2 linked regions of the Homo sapiens genome follow. The protein of the gene in region 1 purifies or fractionates together with the protein of each later gene. This does not show direct contact. Each region holds a gene or a part of one and is shown on either strand. Other genes may lie near its edges.

Region 1 (3,500 bases):
AGTGAAGATGCTGTGAAGATTGTTGAAATGACAGCAAAGGATTTACATAAACTTATTGATAAAGCAGTGTCAGGGTTTGAGAGGACTGACTCCAATTTTGAAAAAAGTTCTGCTGTGGGTAAAATACTGTCAAACAGCATTGCATTCTATAGAGAAATCTTTCATGAAAGGAAGAGTCAATCAATGTGACAAACTTCATTATTGTCTTATTTTAAGAAACTGACCCAGCTACTTCAATCTTCAGTAACCACCACCTTAATCAGTCAGTAGCCACCAACATTGAGGTAAAACCCTCCACCAGCAAAAAGATTATGACTTGCTGAAGGCTCAGCTGATCATTAGCATATGTGAGCAATAAAGTATTTTCAATTAAGGTATGTACATTGATTTTTTTACATAATGCTATTGCACCCTTAACAGACTACAGTATAGTGTAAACATAACTTTTATATACACTGGAAAACCAACAAATTTGTGTGACTCACTTGATTGCAATATTCTCTTTATTGCAGTGGCCTGGAATGGAACCAGCCGTATCTCCCATGGATGCCTGAATTTATTTAATAGTAAGCATTCAAAAACACCCATGATTTTCCTCCTCTCCTGACTATTTGCCATTTAGAATAAGAAATACAGGTAGCATATGATGAAAATTAATATATAGCTAGAAAATATAATTTTAAAGATAACATTTACAATGGCAATTACAAAAATATAAACCACCTAAAACTCAATCTAAAAAGAGTGCATGCCCTTTGAAGAAAATTATAAACTGTATTGAAAGACATTAAATAAGAACTAAATAAATGGAAAGAGTTACTACATTTACAGATAGAAAGACTCAGGCTCAATGTCCTAATGATGGCATTATCTTTTAATCAGTCTATAAGTTTGATAAAACTCAAATCAAATCTCAACAGTATTCTTGTGAAACCTTGAAAGATGATTATAAAATGTATACGGAAGAAAACAGCCCAAGAAAAGCCAAGACACTCTTGAGACACTTTTGCAGAAGGACACTTTTAGGGATGTGTCCTGGCCAATACCAAGATTCATTAAAAAGCTATAATAAAGTTTGGTTAGGGCAAAAGAGTGGCTAAAACATATGCTTAGAAATTGACTCTAAGTTCCAGGAAAATCATTTTTCCATATGAAAGAAAATTAGAATAAATGCCTACCTCACACAACACACACACACACACACACACACACACACACACATATATGCACACACTCCACATGGATTAGAGAACCTAAATTTGAAAGGCAAACAAAACAATAAAGCTTTTAGAAGACAACAAAGGAGAATATCTTCATGACATCAGAGTGGGAAAAAAAAGGCTTTCTGAAACAAGACATAAAAAGTGCTAACCATAAAAGATTGATAAATTCAACTACGTTAAAATTAAGAAGTTAGATAGCAGAAGGTTGGCAAAAATCCAACTTCTATGTGGTCTATAAATCTATTCAGCTTCCCAAAGGCATAAATAACCTTTTTGCATTTATTGGAACTATATTCTGACAACACATGCCATAGCTCAGATTCAGCATATGGTTGGCCCATCTTTGACTTTGTCCACAATTAGATTACTAGCACTACTGGTTTAACCTGAGTATATTTGAATGGATGTGGCTTATACCTAGAACTTTCGTGAGTAGACATATAATACTGCTCAGAATAACATGGCCTGCAATTCAAGACAAGCACCACCACATGCCATCATTATAGGTACTGCTACACCATCACCAGGGACTAGGATTGTACAGCATCTCTTCCTTACCCTCTGTGCAGCGTTTTTCTATGTTTATGATCATTCACACCACAAAGTTCATTCTTGTTCTGCTAACTGCTGGGATTTAACTGCTACTACAAAAACTACCAGGAGAAATATATATCAGTGAAAGCAAGGATAGAAAACCCTAGGGTAGATCAACTTCTAACCCCATGAGAGAAGGTAATCTACTGTCTCCCACACAGCCATGATTTTGTACCAAAAGCTTCCTCCGGTGAGCCTGTGAGTCTTCCATTTCCTTTCTCCTCTCATTCATTCTACCATGCATTCTTCACCAATATTCTGCCATTCACTCTACATGTTGACATATATACCATAATATATGAATATAGTCTGAGACAATAAGAGAAGAAAATGTCACCCACATATGACTTATGTTTAAGGTGATGTAAATTTTTTCAAGATGTCCCTTGCATATATCAAAAGAGATGCTTCTGTTGGCATGATAGTATCTAATAACAACACTCTGTTACTGATGGGAAGTTATTTCTTGGGGACCCCAAGGAATGGAACCTCATAAACTTTCAATGCATTTCATGTCAGGGTACTGAGTAATTACATAGCATTACAATTTTAAAATTTCCTCTTTGGATGAAAGCAGTTTTATTTATAATTTTTCCTATAATGGAAGTAGATAGCTCTAGTGAATCGACTGTTTTAATAGGACAGATTTGGATAAGTAGTTATTGTTAATGATTTTAAGAGATGTCAATAAAACATAGAAATGACTTTCAACAGATAATTATTATAATTCACTCCCAAATCTAGATTACAAAATAAAGAATCACAATAAAAAATGATTTTCAAGTTCACTGATCACAAAGAATTTCAATATTGTCTATGGAAAACAATTTACCCTAATCTTTTTACCCAAATTAACTTAATGAACCACAGCAGACTGAACACATTTAATTCAATTCAATTAAGCAGAAACTTATTGAGCATCTACTACATTCCAGACACCGGAGTTAAAAGGGACAGCTATATTTCCTTTCCCTAAGTAGTTCATAAATGTCCTTTATTCCAGTATAATTATTAGGCAAAATACTATTTCTTTCTTATTACCTATGTAGTGACTAGCTAGACAGTTTATAAATGTCCTTTATTTCAGGAAAATTATTGGACAAAATACCATTTCTTTTTATTATATATACAGTAATGAGCTAGAAAGTGAAGAGAATTCAGTGGAATTGTTTAGGTTTGTTCTGGAAAAATATATTCAAAAGAATTATCAAATTTAGGATAGTGACTATGTCTGCCAAGAGAAGGGGACGTATGATCAGAGAAAGGTTACCAGGAGGTTTCAACTGTATTTAACTGGCTTTATTTCATTAGCTGAGTGGTAGGTACAAAACTTTTTATTATATTGTTATTTATACTTTTTGTGTGTCTTAACCCATTTATGCCAGAGGTTGCAAATTGTTTTTTGTGAAAAATGAGACTTTGGTGATGACCTTGAGCAGTAGGATATAAATAACGCCCACAAGCTTAGCATTCCAATAAAGGAACACTAGGCATAAATGGGTTAAATATTCTGTCCTACATTTCAAATCACACACATATTATTTTCATGATAGAATGAAAACTACTCTTAAAAGGCTTAAGTGATTCTCTACATTTTTCCCAATCTATTTCATAAGACACTGAGAGATGCTACTTGAAATCAAAGGTTCTATGGCAAATGAATTTTTAAAATTCTTCATGAGT
Region 2 (3,089 bases), on another chromosome or scaffold:
CCTTACTTAACTATTCTGGACATCTGTCTGTCCCTGGAACAGCCTGATGTGGGCAGATGGTCGTGGAGGCTGAAAACCCGGGTGTTGGCCTTGGCGTCAAAGTTTGCTGGTTGAGTGACCTACGCAAGTTAAGCCCTCTGATCTTTATGTGACTTACATGTTAAATGAGAACCAGTCCTGCTCTGCCTGGATCACAGTAGGGATCAAAGGAGACCAGTGTCTCGTCAACTGAAAATTACTACACAAGCCATAGGCCTCTGTTTCTTTTTATTTTATTTTATTTTTTTTTTGAGATGGAGCCTTGCTCTGTCGCCCAGGCTGGAGTGCAGTGGCACGAACTCCGCTCACTGCAAGCTCCGCCTCCCGGGTTCACGCCATTCTCCTGCCTCAGCCTCCCGAGTACTGGGACTACAGGCACTTGCCACCACGCCCAGCTAATTTTTTCTATATTTTAGTAGAGATGGGGTTTCACCATGTTAGCCAGGATGGTCTCGATCTCCTGACCTCGTGATCCGCCCGCCTTGGCCTCCCAAAGTGCTGGGATTACAGGTGTGAGCCACCGTGCCCGGCCGCCATAGGCCTCCATTTCTGTCTCTGACAGTCTACCTTTCTATTCCTCTTGGTCACATGGCATCTGTAGATATTCAGAGAGTGAGGTGGAAAGGTGAGGTGTCCCTGCCTTTATGAGAATCAAAGCTGCTTCTGCTATACCTGTGACACACAGAGGCAACACCATGAGGGCAAGAGGACTGAGGAATCAGCATTCCTGCTCAGACATTCAGAGACTGTGAAGGGCCAGGAGGGAGCCACCTGACACTGAGTCTTAGGGAGCCCCTTTCCTGTAGTTTCAGGTAGACCACGGGAACCACAGGCTGGAGGCTGGGCCGGAGAGCCAGCACCAAACCAGGGAACAGCTGGGTGCCCTCCCTCAGCAGTGGCTGGGCCAGCTGGAGCACATGCCAGCAGAAGCGGCCAGAATCCTTGACATCTCCAGGGCAGTAACACAGCTCAGAAGCCTGGTCATTGATCTGGAAAGGACGGCCAAGGAATTAGACACCAACACACTGAAGGTGCATACCCTGAGGCCTTCCCCAAGGGCTGGGATTCTCCCCGATAGGAGGCAGCCCATCTGCATCACCCTTCTGGGAGGTGTAAGAGGGAGGGGCCTGTGTGATATGTGGTGACTTGTGGTAGATGTGGCTTGTTCCAGGCTACAGAGTGCTGCTGCAGCAGAATGGGCACAGAAGAGGGGTGTTGCTATGTTCCCCCAGTTCTCAAGGTGGCACCCCAGAGTGGCCTCCAAGAGTGAATTGGGAAAGGAATTTGGAGGTGATAGGAACCTGAGAACCAATTATGATTCTCACTTTTTCTCTCTCCTAGAATGCTGGTGACTTACTGAACAGGTACGAGCTGTCCCTTCTTCTTTCCCACATGTGCATATAAACCCACACAACACAGACATGCACAGAGGTCAAGGAGACCCACTGCTCCGTTAGCTTTTGTATCTTGATGCTACATGGCCAATGGAAGAGCCAATGGAATATATGAATACATATTAATCTATGAAAGATTTCTTTGTTTCTAGGAGTGCTCCACAGAAATTAGAGGTTATTTATCCCCAGTTGGAGAAAGGAGTCAGTGAATTGCTTCTTCAGCCCCCTCAGAAGCTCTGACCTGTTCATCCCTGGGACACCTCACTTCAGGCTCACCTCAGCCTCCTCTCTCTCCTTCCTCCAACCTGTCCAGGCCCCCACTGGGTCTACCCAGTGCATCTTCGGGCCTGCCAGCTCCTGAACATGTCACCATTTCTTCATGTCCACAGTCATCACCTGATGCCTGACCCTCTGACTCTTGGACGATAGCCAGCCTCCTTCCAGGACAGGCTCATGCTTGGGGCTGCCACTGTGGAGGTCGGGGCCCATGGTCTCCAGGAGCATTTGTGAAATCTCCATTTTGCCTGTAAACTGATGGTAGTGCCCATCTCTCACAATCTCATTCAAATAGGATCCTCCAGGCCTCTGAATGGCCCGAGCTCATCAGCAGTGACACCACCTCACATGTGGAGCCCAGCTGAGTTCCTGCAGTACTTGTTGTCTGTACCACTCACCTGGCACTTATTTATTATTGTTGTGGAAGACAGACTCAAAGACAGCCTCCCTTCATGATCCTCACCTCTTGGAATTCATGCCCTTGTTTGGTCCCCTCCCCTTGAGTGTAAGTGGGATCTGTGACTTGCTTCTAATGAATGGAATAAGGCAAAGGTGATAGGGTGTCACTCTGGCAACTGTGTTGCATTGTATAGAACTCCTCCTTGCTGGCCCACCCTTTTAGAGCCCCTCCTAGGAGCCAAGAGCAGCTTCCAGCCAACAACAAGCAGAGGCCCTCAGTCTTGTGGCTGCAAGAACCTGAATTCTGCCAACAACCCGAGTGAGCTTGGAAGCAGATTCTTCCCCAACTGAGCCGGATAAGAACCTAGTCCAGCCAACACCTTGATTATAGTCTTGTGAGTACCTAAGCTGAGGACCCAGTGAAGCTGTGCCAAAATTTCCCACCCACAGAAACAGTGTGACAATAAATGTGTGTGTGTTTTTTTGTTTTCTGTTTTCGTTTTTGAGATGGAGTCTCACTCTGTTGCCCAGGCTGGAATGCGGTGGTGTGATGTCGGCTCACTGTAACCTCTGTCTCCTAGGTTCAAGCAATTCTCCTGCCTCAGCCTCCCTAATAGCTAGGGATTATAGGCGCCCGCCACCACACCCGGCTAATTTTTTGTGTTTTTAGTAGAGACAGGGTTTAACCATGTTGGCCAGGCTGGCCTTGAACTTCTGACCTCAGGTGATCAGCCCACCTTGGCCTCCCAAAATGCTGGGATTACAGGTGTGAGCCACCGCGCCTGGCCATGTGTTGTTATAAGGCAGTAAATTTGTGGTAATTTTTGTGGAGTAATGGATAATGAATACAATTGTATATTAGTCATTTTTGTATAAGCCTCACTTCTTTGGGTGAGCAGGGATCATATTCTGTCTGTGTCCTCATGTCTAGAACAGTGTCTGGCTCATAGCTGGTGTCCAGTAAAATTTTAAATGTATGTA

What was found. Proteins that work in one complex are often made in the same cells at the same time.
Region 2: the proteins of DAB1 (region 1) and TRIM40 purify together in Homo sapiens (affinity purification with western blotting; one study listed by BioGRID). This does not show direct contact.

The regions. Positions count from the first base shown.
Region 1 is NC_000001.11:57,414,061-57,417,560, forward strand, and holds part of DAB1 (disabled homolog 1), read right to left. Parts: intron 1-3,500. UniProt on the Homo sapiens protein: Signaling adapter of the reelin-mediated signaling pathway, which regulates the migration and differentiation of postmitotic neurons during brain development.
Region 2 is NC_000006.12:30,146,140-30,149,228, forward strand, and holds the end of TRIM40 (E3 ubiquitin ligase TRIM40), read left to right. Parts: intron 1-845; coding exon 846-1,070; intron 1,071-1,380; coding exon 1,381-1,403; intron 1,404-1,585; coding exon 1,586-1,673; 3' UTR 1,674-2,589; downstream 2,590-3,089. UniProt on the Homo sapiens protein: E3 ubiquitin-protein ligase that plays a role in the limitation of the innate immune response. Mediates inhibition of the RLR signaling pathway by ubiquitinating RIGI and IFIH1 receptors, leading to their proteasomal degradation.